Regions from separate parts of the Homo sapiens genome. Here region 2 is linked to region 1. The links come from fine-mapping of genetic effects on gene expression. A gene starts in region 1. The other region holds a variant in brackets. All regions are shown on one strand. Distances are between the middles of the regions.

Region 1 (5,363 bases):
ATTCTTCAACTTCCTTTTTTTTTTTTTTTGAGATGGAGTTTCGCTCTTTCGCCCAGGCTGGAGTGAAGTGGTGCGATCTCGGCTCACTGCAACCTCCACCCCGTCAGGTTCAAGCGATTCTCCTGCCTTAGCCTCCCGAGTAGCTGGAATTATGGGCATGTGCCACCATGCCAGGCTAATTTTTGTATTTTTAGTAGAGATGGGGTTTTGCCATGTTGGCCAGGCTTGTCTCGAACTCCTGACCTCAGATGATCTACCCACCTCGGCCTCCCAAAGTGCTGGGATTACAGGCGTGAGCTGCCGCGCCTGGCCTTTTCTTCAACTTCTTTTCCCTTGTGCCATCCAAAGTCAGTTCTTGACTGACTGACTTATTTTTGAGACAGGATCTCGCTCTGTCACCCATGCTGGAGTGCAATGGCATGATCATGGGTCACTATAGCCTCAACCTTCCAGGCTCAAGTGATCCTCCCACCTCAGTCTCCTGAGTAGCTGAGACCACAGGTGCACCCCACCACACTGGGCTAATTTTTGTATTTTTTGTAGAGATGGGGTTTTACCATGTTGCCCAGGCTGGTCTCAAACTCCTGGGCTCAAGCAATCCACCCACCTTAGCCTCCCACAGTGCTGAGATTACAGGCATGAGCCACCACACCCAGCTTATTCATTTTATTTAACGTAAGAGATTTTTCCTTTTTTTTTTTTTTTTTTTTTTTTTTTTTGAGACAAGGTCTCACTCTGTTACTCGGGCCGGAATGGAGTGGCTCAATCATAGCTCACTGAAGCTTCAAATTCCTGGGCTCAAACGATACTCCTGCCTCAGCCTCCCAAGTAGCTGGGACTACAGGCATGAGCCACCATGCGTGGCTAATTTATGTATTTATTTATTTTTAAGAAATGGGGTTTCACTATGCTGCCCAGGCTGATCTTGAACTCCTGGCCTCAAGCAATCCTCCCGCCTCAGCCTCCCAAAGTGTTGGGATGACAGATGTGAGCCACCACACTCACAATTCTTTTTTTTTAAATTATTTCTTGTATCTGTCCCTTTCTTTTCCACCCCCATTGCTACTTCTTCAGTTGAGACCTCACAAATGTCACCTGGATCACTGTAAAACATTAAACTTGATCACTTGATCACTAGTTCCCACTTTAGAATAAGTGATCAGGGAAGGCCTCTCTAAGAAAATAACACGTGTGGCCGGGTGTGGTGGCTCATGCCTGTAATCCCAGCACTTCGGGAGGCTGAGGTGGGTAGATCATCTGAGGTCAGGAGTTCAAGACCAGCCTGACCAACACGATGAAACCCCATCTCTACTAAAAATACAAAATTAGCCGGGCGTGGTGGCTCACGCCTGTAATCCCAGCACTTTGGGAGGCCAAGGAGGGCGGATCACCTGAGGTCAGGAGTTCAAGACCAGCCTCACCAACATGGAGAAACCCCATCTCTACTAAAAATACAAAATTAGCCGGGTATGGTGGCGCATACCTGTAATCCCAGCTACTTGGGAGGCTGAGGCAGGAGAATCGCTTGAACCCGGGAGGCGGAGGTTGCAGTGAGCCGAGATCGTGCCATTGCACAACAAGAGCGAAACTCCGTCTTGAAAGAAAGAAAAGAAAAGAAAAGAACACCTAGGTCGGGTGCGGTGGCTCACGCCTGTAATCCCAGCACTTTGGGAGGCTGAGGCGGGCGATCACCTGAGGTCAGGAGTTCGAGACCAGCCTGGCCAACATGGTGAAACCCCCTCTCTACTAAAAATACAAAAATTAGCTGGGCGTGGTCGCCGGCGCCTGTAATCCCAGCTACTCGGGAGGCTGAGGCAGGAGAATCACTTGAACCCGGGAGGCGGAGGTTGCAGTGAGTAGAGATCGTGCCACTGCACTCCAGCCCGGGTGACAGAGCAAGACTCCATCTAAAAAAAAAAAAAAAAAAAAGAAAAGAACACCTGAGCTAAATTTAAGAAGAAACCACCTACGTCAGGACCTAGAGGAAGAGCAGTGTCAAGCAAAGGAACAGCAAGTACAAAGTCTTGTGGCCAGAATAATGCTGTACTGGCGAGCTAGAAGAATAGGACAGAATAACCCGATTATAAAAGGGGCAGTGGGAGAGAAAGGCGAGTACTAGGAGATGAAGTTGAAGAATTAAGCAGAGACCAGATCAAGTACTGCCTTGCTCTGGCCATGAAAAAAGTATGGATTTTAGTCTAAGTGTGCTCAAGCATCAGTTTTGTTTGTTTGTTATTTTTAATAAGCAGGGGAATGGCACAATCTAATGTCTGCTCTTAGAAGACGGATAGCTGTTACGTGGGAATTATTTGTAAAGAATGTGGGAAAAGCAGAGGCAAGAAAGGCAGGCCGAAGGTTATTGCAACAGCCCTGGCAAGAAAGGGTAGCTTGAATTACAACGGCAGTGGAAATGGAGAGAAGTGAATGGGTTTAGGATATATTTTGGCCCTGAAATGGCAGGGCTTGCTGCTGGAATAGACGTGGGGATGTAGGAAAGAGGAGTCACAGGTAATCCCTCGAGTTCCTTGTACTGTAACTGGAGTATATCTCCCTCCTGAGGGTAGCTAAGGAACGGGTTGGGACAGAGGGTTGGTTTTTTGCACCAAAAGATCTATTTTGGACATGGACATGTTATGCAAAGATGCTATTATCTCTTCTAGGGGCGATGCCCGTGAGCAACTGGATAATCAAATCTGGAGCATTTCAGTCTCAAACACCTCCTCAGAGTGATCCCAGGAGATCTCTGCAGCCACGGTGACATTTTCTTTATCTGAAGCGATGACACAGCTCACTGAATGCCATTCTTCCACATGCTGGAAAAGCGAGGTCTAGTGAACACAATTCCTTTCCGTGCGGAAAGTCTGAAATCTTTTTAACACTTCGGACACAGAGCATCGTAAGGTCCCAGAATAGAGGGTGTGAGCAATTTCAGCGCTCACCTCGGCCCAAGCGAAGCTCCAGCGGGAGCAATTGAGACCCAGGGACGAAGCTAGGGAGGGCCTGGCAGCCCCCGGCACTGGCCGGCAGGGGTAACCCAGGAAAAACAGTCTCCTGGCCTCTCGTTACCCGCTTCAGGCCCTCCGCCCTCCCCTGGCCTCTCGGGACGGCCGCGCTTACCTGAACCGAACTGTACGCACAAGCGCGCTCCTGACTCCAGGTGCACACCGTGGAGGCCTGAAACGAGAGCCATGACCGCGACGCGCTGAACAAACCAAGCCGCCAGTTTTCCGTCCCGTCCCGGCCCCGGCCCTGGCGAGGTGCGCATGCGCAGGGCCGGGAGCTAGGACCCCGCGGCAGGCGGGCGCGTCCGCGTCGCACGGAAGTCTCGCGATGTTTGCGTTTGAACCTCTTGGCGGGTGCCGGCCATGGCGGCTTCGCTCCCGGGACCTGGGAGCCGGCTTTTCCGCACATATGGGGCTGCGGACGGCAGGAGACAGCGGCGGCCGGGCCGGGAAGCCGCGCAGTGGTTCCCGCCGCAGGACCGGAGGCGTTTCTTCAACAGCAGCGGCAGCAGCGACGCCAGCATCGGCGACCCCTCGCAGTCCGACGATCCTGACGATCCCGACGACCCCGACTTCCCCGGCAGCCCGGTGAGGCGGCGGCGGAGGCGTCCCGGCGGCCGAGTGCCCAAGGACCGGCCCAGCCTGACCGTGACCCCAAAGCGCTGGAAGCTGCGAGCTCGCCCAAGCCTAACCGTGACCCCAAGACGCCTGGGGCTGCGAGCTCGGCCCCCGCAGAAGTGCAGCACACCCTGCGGCCCGCTCCGACTTCCGCCCTTCCCCAGCCGCGACTCCGGCCGCCTCAGCCCGGACCTCAGCGTGTGCGGCCAGCCCAGGGACGGCGACGAGCTGGGCATCAGTGCCTCCCTGTTCAGCTCTCTGGCCTCGCCCTGCCCCGGGTCCCCAACGCCAAGGGACAGTGTCATCTCGATCGGCACCTCCGCCTGTCTGGTTGCAGCCTCAGCCGTCCCGAGCGGCCTCCACCTCCCAGAAGTCTCCCTGGACCGAGCATCTCTCCCCTGCTCCCAGGAGGAAGCGACAGGAGGAGCCAAGGACACCAGGATGGTCCACCAAACCCGCGCCAGCCTCAGGTCAGTTCTCTTTGGCCTTATGAACTCAGGAACCCCTGAGGATTCTGAGTTTCGGGCAGATGGGAAGAATATGAGAGAGTCCTGCTGTAAAAGGAAACTGGTGGTGGGAAATGGACCAGAGGGTCCAGGTCTGTCAAGCACAGGCAAGAGGAGGGCCACAGGCCAGGACTCTTGTCAAGAGAGAGGGCTTCAAGAGGCCGTCCGGAGAGAGCATCAGGAGGCCAGTGTTCCCAAGGGCCGCATTGTGCCAAGGGGAATAGACAGGCTGGAGAGAACTAGATCAAGCCGGAAGAGCAAACATCAGGAGGCAACGGAAACCTCTCTCCTCCATTCCCACCGCTTTAAAAAGGGCCAAAAGCTGGGAAAAGATTCGTTCCCCACCCAGGACCTGACTCCTTTACAGAATGTCTGCTTTTGGACCAAAACCAGGGCTTCCTTCAGTTTCCACAAGAAGAAAATTGTGACTGATGTGTCAGAGGTCTGCAGCATCTATACCACTGCCACTTCTCTCTCTGGATCCCTCCTATCAGAATGTTCAAACCGGCCTGTCATGAACAGAACAAGTGGTGCTCCGTCCTCTTGGCACTCCTCCTCTATGTATTTGCTAAGCCCCTTAAACACTCTAAGTATTTCAAACAAAAAGGCATCTGATGCTGAAAAGGTTTATGGGGAATGCAGTCAGAAGGGTCCTGTCCCCTTTAGCCATTGCCTTCCCACAGAAAAACTGCAACGCTGTGAGAAGATTGGGGAAGGGGTGTTTGGCGAAGTGTTTCAAACAATTGCTGATCACACACCCGTAGCCATAAAAATCATTGCTATTGAAGGACCAGATTTAGTCAATGGATCCCATCAGAAAACCTTTGAGGAAATCCTGCCAGAGATCATCATCTCCAAAGAGTTGAGCCTCTTATCCGGTGAAGTGTGCAACCGCACAGAAGGCTTTATCGGGCTGAACTCAGTGCACTGTGTCCAGGGATCTTACCCTCCCTTGCTCCTCAAAGCCTGGGATCACTATAATTCAACCAAAGGCTCTGCAAATGACCGGCCTGATTTTTTTAAAGACGACCAGCTCTTCATTGTGCTGGAATTTGAGTTTGGAGGGATTGACTTAGAGCAAATGCGAACCAAGTTGTCTTCCTTGGCTACTGCAAAGAGCATTCTACACCAGCTCACAGCCTCCCTCGCAGTGGCAGAGGCATCACTGCGCTTTGAGCACCGAGACTTACACTGGGGGAACGTGCTCTTAAAGAAAACCAGCCTCAAAAAACTCCAC
Region 2 (5,363 bases), 27 kb before region 1:
GAGGTTGTGAAGAAATTAGAACCCCCGTATATCACTGATAGGGATGTAAAATGAGGTAGTTATGGTAGAAAACAGTTTAGCAGTTCCTCAAAAGGTTAAGGATCGAGTTACCAGATAAGCCAGAAAATTCCCAAGAGATTGAGAACATGGCCAGGCACAGTGGCTCCCGCCTGTCATCCCAGCACTTTGGGAGGCCAAGGCAGGTGGATCACCTGAGGTCAGGAGTTCGAGGCCAGCCTGACCAACATGGTGAAACTCCGTGTCTACTAAAAAAATACAAAAATTAGCCAGGCATGGTGGCCCATGCCTGTAATCCCAGTTAATCCAGAGGCTGAGGCAGGAGAATCTCTTGAACCCAGGAGGCAGAGGTTGTAGTGAGCTGAGATCATGCCATTGCACTCCAGCCTGGGCAACAAGAGCGAAACTCCATCTCAAAAATAATAATAATAATAATTAAAAATTGAAAAATTGAAAACATGTTCACAAAAAACTTGTACATGAATGTTCTCAGAAGCATTCTTCTTCTTTTTTTTTTTTTGAGACAGTCTTGCTCTGCTGCCCAGGCTGCTGGAGTGCACTGGTGCGAGTAGCTGAGATTACATGCGCTCGCCACCACACCCAGCCAATTTTTGAATTTTTAGTAGAGACGGGGTTTTACCACGTTGGTCAGGCTAGCCTTGAACTCCTGACCTCAAGTGATCCAGCCACCGCGGTCTCCTCTCCCAAAGTGCTGGGGTTACAGGCATGAGCCACTACACTCAGCGGTGTGAAAACCACCCAAATGTCCATCAGCTGATGAATGCATGACCACAATGTGGCAGCCCCACACGGCAGGATAGTATCAGCCACAGAGAGGAATGGAGGGCTGATAGATGCCACAACATGGGTGAACCTTGAAAACATGACACCAAGTGAAAGAAGCCAGAAAAAAAAAAAAAAAGGCCGCATACTATACAATTTCATTTATACGAAATACCCAGAATAGGCAAATCCATAGAGACAGATTCTCCTGCCTCAGCCTCCCGATTAGCTGGGATTACAGGCGCCACTATCATGCCCAGCTAATTGTTGTGTATTTTTAGTAGAAACAGGGTTTCTCCATGTTGGCCAGGCTGGTCTCGAACTCCTGACCTCAGGTGATCCACCCACCTCGGCTTCCCAAAGGGCTGGGATTATAGGCATGAGCCACAGCGCCCGGCCGCCAATTTCCTAATTTTCATACTTGTACTTAGTTAAATATGTCCTGCTTTCCCTGCCATGTGAGGACACAGCGAGAGGGTGGCCATCTGCAAGCCAAGGAGAGAGCCCCCCCTGAGACCCCGAACCATGCTACCACCCTCGTCTCAGATTTCCACATCCAGGACTGCGAGAATTAAATTTCTATTGTTCAAGCAAAAGCAACTCCATTTATTCATTCATGCGTTCATTTCACATCTATTCCCTAAGCAGTTAAGTGCTGCTGGGGCCCCACCCTCAGGGCATTCCCGGACTGACAGCGACATCAGGCAAATGATCCCCCAAATAAGCCCAATAATTACACTGTGGGAAGGCCAGGGAGGAAGGGAGAGGGAGTTACTGGAAAGCCCAGATCTGGGGGCTGAGTGGATGCTAAGGGAGTGGAGGAGGACGGGCAGGCCTGGCTGAGCAACAGCACAGCGCCTACGAGGCCGCTCAGGTGGGAGGCGGCCAGGGGCCTGGGGATGCAGCTCAGAGAACGCGGACTGCTGGACCTCCGAGGGAGAGCCAGGCGTCAGGGCTGCCCTCCCAGGAGGAAGCAGGAGGAACTCCACCGCATTTACTGAACGAGTGGAATGAGGCGCATCCCCATTGTCCAGCGCTGCTTCTCCCCTCCACCTGCTCACCCCCGACCCACCCCGGGGTCAGGGCTCTGAAGGCGCCTGGCAGAGCAGCCTCCACAAGTTGCCTCTTTGGCTTTGTGGCGCCAGCTCCTGCCAGGTGGCATGAGGATGGGGGAAGGGGATGGCCGAGCTGGGTGCAGAGATAGAGGCCTCTGGGCAGGACCCCCAGCTGGACACCAGAGAGGCTGGCCGCGGGTGGGGCAAGTTGACCGGAAGGGAGCTCAGGAACATGCCGGGCTGATGAGTTTCTCCAGCTCTGAGTAGGCAGTGACACCCTGTGATTATAAATAACCTGCCGGCGCCTGGGTCAGCTGCCAGGCCAAGGCCCAGGGAGGCTCCTGGGGCGACAGCTGCCACCCAGCCCCCTGGCATCCCTGCCCCCTTCCCATGGCCCTAACACGTGGGGACCCGACTCTGGGAGAAGCAGCTGCAGGGAAAGCCTGATAAATCGAGGAAACCAGAAGGCCCCTGCCCACCTCTCATCACCTCTAGCGCCAGTGGGGGAGTGGAGAGCCCCCTCTCTACACCCTACTCCTACACCCAAGGACCCAAAGAGGACCCCCACAGCAAGCAGGCTCACAGACC[C/T]CCAGCTACCGGGAAAACCGCGTGCACGCCTGCGAATTCCAGGACCCTGGAGAAGGACGCGGCGGCTGGCACCCGCCCTGCCCCTCCCCCGCCTTCCCAAAAGTCCGCGGAGAACTTACACGACCAGGTACGCCAGGATGGAGGCCTGCAGCAGCCGGTACAGCAGGCCCACCTTCTTGTTCTTGGCGATGACATACTTCTCGGTCTTGTAGTCGAACAGCGACAGGCAGAGCCCCTTGCAGCCCGCCTGCCCCATGGCGCGCTCTCAGCCGGGCTTGCGGACCGCCCGGCCCACGTGCGCTCATGGGGAGCACTCGGTCCCTCGGTCCCTGCGCGCCCGGCGCCCGCCTCGGCCCGTCTGCGCCCGCTCAGCTGCAGCCCGGGGTGTCCGGCAGGGCTGCGGGGCGCGGGGGCGGGTCGGGGCGGCCTTTTATTGACGCGGTTGAGAAAGCCTCGGCTGGGAGCTGGGCGGCGGCGAGCACCGGAACCTCAGACCGCGACCTTGCCGCTACCTCTTCTTCCTCCTCCTCCTCCTCCTCCCCTGACACAGTGACACCCCTGCAACCTACTCCCCAGCCACCGGTCTGGGAGCGCAGCCCCCCGGATGCGCAGGACCGCCCTGTGCTGTTGCCCAGCTGAAAGCAGCGATCGCGGAGGAGAGGAAGTGAAAGGGGGAAGGGCTCCTTTTTATTTTATTTTAAATTTATTTATTCATTTATTTTTGAGACGGAGCCTCGCTCTGTCGCCGAGGCTGGAGTGCAGTGGTGCGATCTCAGCTCACTGCTACCTCCGCCTCCCGGGTTCAAGCGATTCTCCTGCCTCAGCCTCCCAAGTAGCTGGGACTACAGGCGTGATAATTTTTGTATTTTTAGTAGAGACGGGGTTTCACCATGTTGGCCAGGCTGGTCTTGAACTCCTGACCTCAGGTGATCCGCCCACCTCGGCCTCCCAAAGTGCTGGGATTACAGGCGTGAGCCACCGCGCACGGCCGGGAAGAGCTCCGTTTAAAGCAAAACTCCCCTTTCTCTCGCAAAGAAATCCCAAAGGGTTCTTCCTATTGAATAGATGGGGAACTGAGGCCAGGGGAGGAAGGAAGGGGACACAACAGGTTTCTCCATTCACCTCGCGCCAGGTCTCCTGCCAGGGAGATACATTCTTGCTCCGTGGGCAGGGGGTGGTTGTGGGGGGGAAGCCGTGGCTCCCCCACAGGCTGGAAGAGACAAGACTTGTCCCACCTGAGGCTGCCTGTGTCTGCTGCGACTAATGCGCGTTTCTACTGCAGCAGCTGCTGCAGGTTTAAAAGCCCACACTCCGGCGGAGTCGGTGGTCAGGCAGGTCCCGAGTGCCGGCAGCATGAAGACCTCCCTCCCACACTCAGGGCGGATGGTGCGGGGGTGGGGGGCAGACGGGGTGGGGGCGGGGAGACACAGGCAACCCACCCTAGGATCCTAAAAATATGCCTGGAGAGTGCGCATGTACCAACTGTTTGGAATGGTTCCCAACGCACAAGAAATAGAACTGATCCATGCAGCTATGACTGCAACCCTCTCAGTATGTGGAATTCAACAGGAGTGGGAGTGGGATGAGGGAGGGCCTCCGGGGGGGCAGGTTTAGAACTCCTGACAGCCAAAGACGCAGGGCCCTGGGTGAGCGCGGTGTGGTGAGGAGCTGCGCACGCTTATTTTCTGCATCCTGCAGTCTGACCACAAGCAGTCCTGCTCCTCTCCCTACCCCTGGCTTTCACACACAAAGAGGCTCCCTTCCCTAAGCCACAGACTCGGGGAACTGGAAGGTACCCTGAAATTCATCAGTGTGATTCTAAAGTAAAAGCCCCAAGGAAGGTGTCCAGTTTCAAAGTGCATGGGAATCATGTGGAAGAAAAAAAGGCAAATTCCTAGGCCCTGCCCCTCAAATTTTCATTCACGAAATCTAAGATGGGGCTGGGAACCTGTATTTTGCTCTCAAACTGTCATTTGGGAAAGCGTGGATCTTTGCATCTTTTCATCCATTTCAACTCAACTGCCATTTCTTCAAAAAGGCCTGTTATTATTGCCCACCCAAAGTAGCCCCCAGTCCCAGCCCAGCCACTTTCTATCCCATTATCTCATCTTATTCCCTTAGAGCACCTGTCACTATCCAGTAGGATCTCGTTGACTTAGTGACTGTGTCCCATGCTAAGACCAGAAGCTCCCGGAGAGCAGGGACCATGCCTTTGGACATCTCTGTATGTCCCTGTGCCTGCCACATAATAGTTCTAGACATATTATTGAATGAGTGGACAAACCTGGCCCTGATTTTTTTTTTTTTCAACAGGGAGGGCATTTCGATTCCACCCTGCCCCAGTCATGACTGCGAATTTTAGGGGCTGAAGTCATCTTGGCTCTCCTGCCAGCCTCCTCCTCAGCCCCCTGCTAACACAGCACTCCAATGCTCACTAAAGCAGCCGCCACCGAGTGACATCACCCCTAAGAAGATGCCCGTCACCCTGACAGTGCTGCTCCAGGGTAAGGTATAGAGGGGAGGTGGACTTTCAGAGTCTCACAGGAGTCGCCTGAATTGCATCTGCCCTGGAGAAGAGCTTGCCCATCAACCCCAGCACAGGACAACATGAGTGTCACAGAGATGGTGCCACATTGAGTCTCTCCACTCCCCAAGGGAGTTCCAGGTTTTGTTCCAGGGCCTGTTTGTTCTTTGAAGGGGTCTTTAGAGACCAGGACCTTCATTTTTCTGGGGTGATTAGGGAAGGGGTGAGTAAGTGAGGCCCCAGAGCAGAGCCTACCACTAGCCCCAGTCCCAGGCACTCTGCTGTTCTTGATTCATCAAACCTTTGTGTGCTACTGGAGAGGCTGAACTGCCAGGCACTTGCCCTCCATGTCCTGTCTTAACTGCCACTGTGGCTTTAGAGAAGGGCTCTGCTCT

The links. PIP is the estimated chance that this variant, and not a neighbour inherited with it, causes the effect.
Region 2: its variant is fine-mapped to the expression of HASPIN in skeletal muscle (GTEx, PIP above 0.99).

What each region holds. Positions count from the first base shown.
Region 1 is chr17:3,720,571-3,725,933 of GRCh38, forward strand. HASPIN (histone H3 associated protein kinase) reads left to right here and starts at 3,333. Exons shown (of 1, transcript NM_031965.2): 1 at 3,333-5,363. The coding sequence starts at 3,366. ITGAE (integrin subunit alpha E) reads right to left here. Exons shown (of 31, transcript NM_002208.5): 27 at 3,118-3,174; 28 at 2,718-2,813. It also overlaps a transcript of P2RX5 not described here. RefSeq lists a silencer at 3,234-3,393 and an enhancer at 3,263-4,018.
Region 2 is chr17:3,693,306-3,698,668 of GRCh38, forward strand. It overlaps P2RX5 (purinergic receptor P2X 5), which reads right to left and starts at 2,850. Exons shown (of 12, transcript NM_002561.4): 1 at 2,564-2,850. The coding sequence starts at 2,700. P2RX5-TAX1BP3 (P2RX5-TAX1BP3 readthrough (NMD candidate)) reads right to left here and starts at 3,099. Exons shown (of 15, transcript NR_037928.1): 1 at 2,564-3,099. RefSeq lists enhancers at 451-500, 901-950, 1,921-2,437, 2,550-2,599 and a silencer at 2,720-3,079. The variant C/T (reference allele first, on the strand shown) is at 2,445.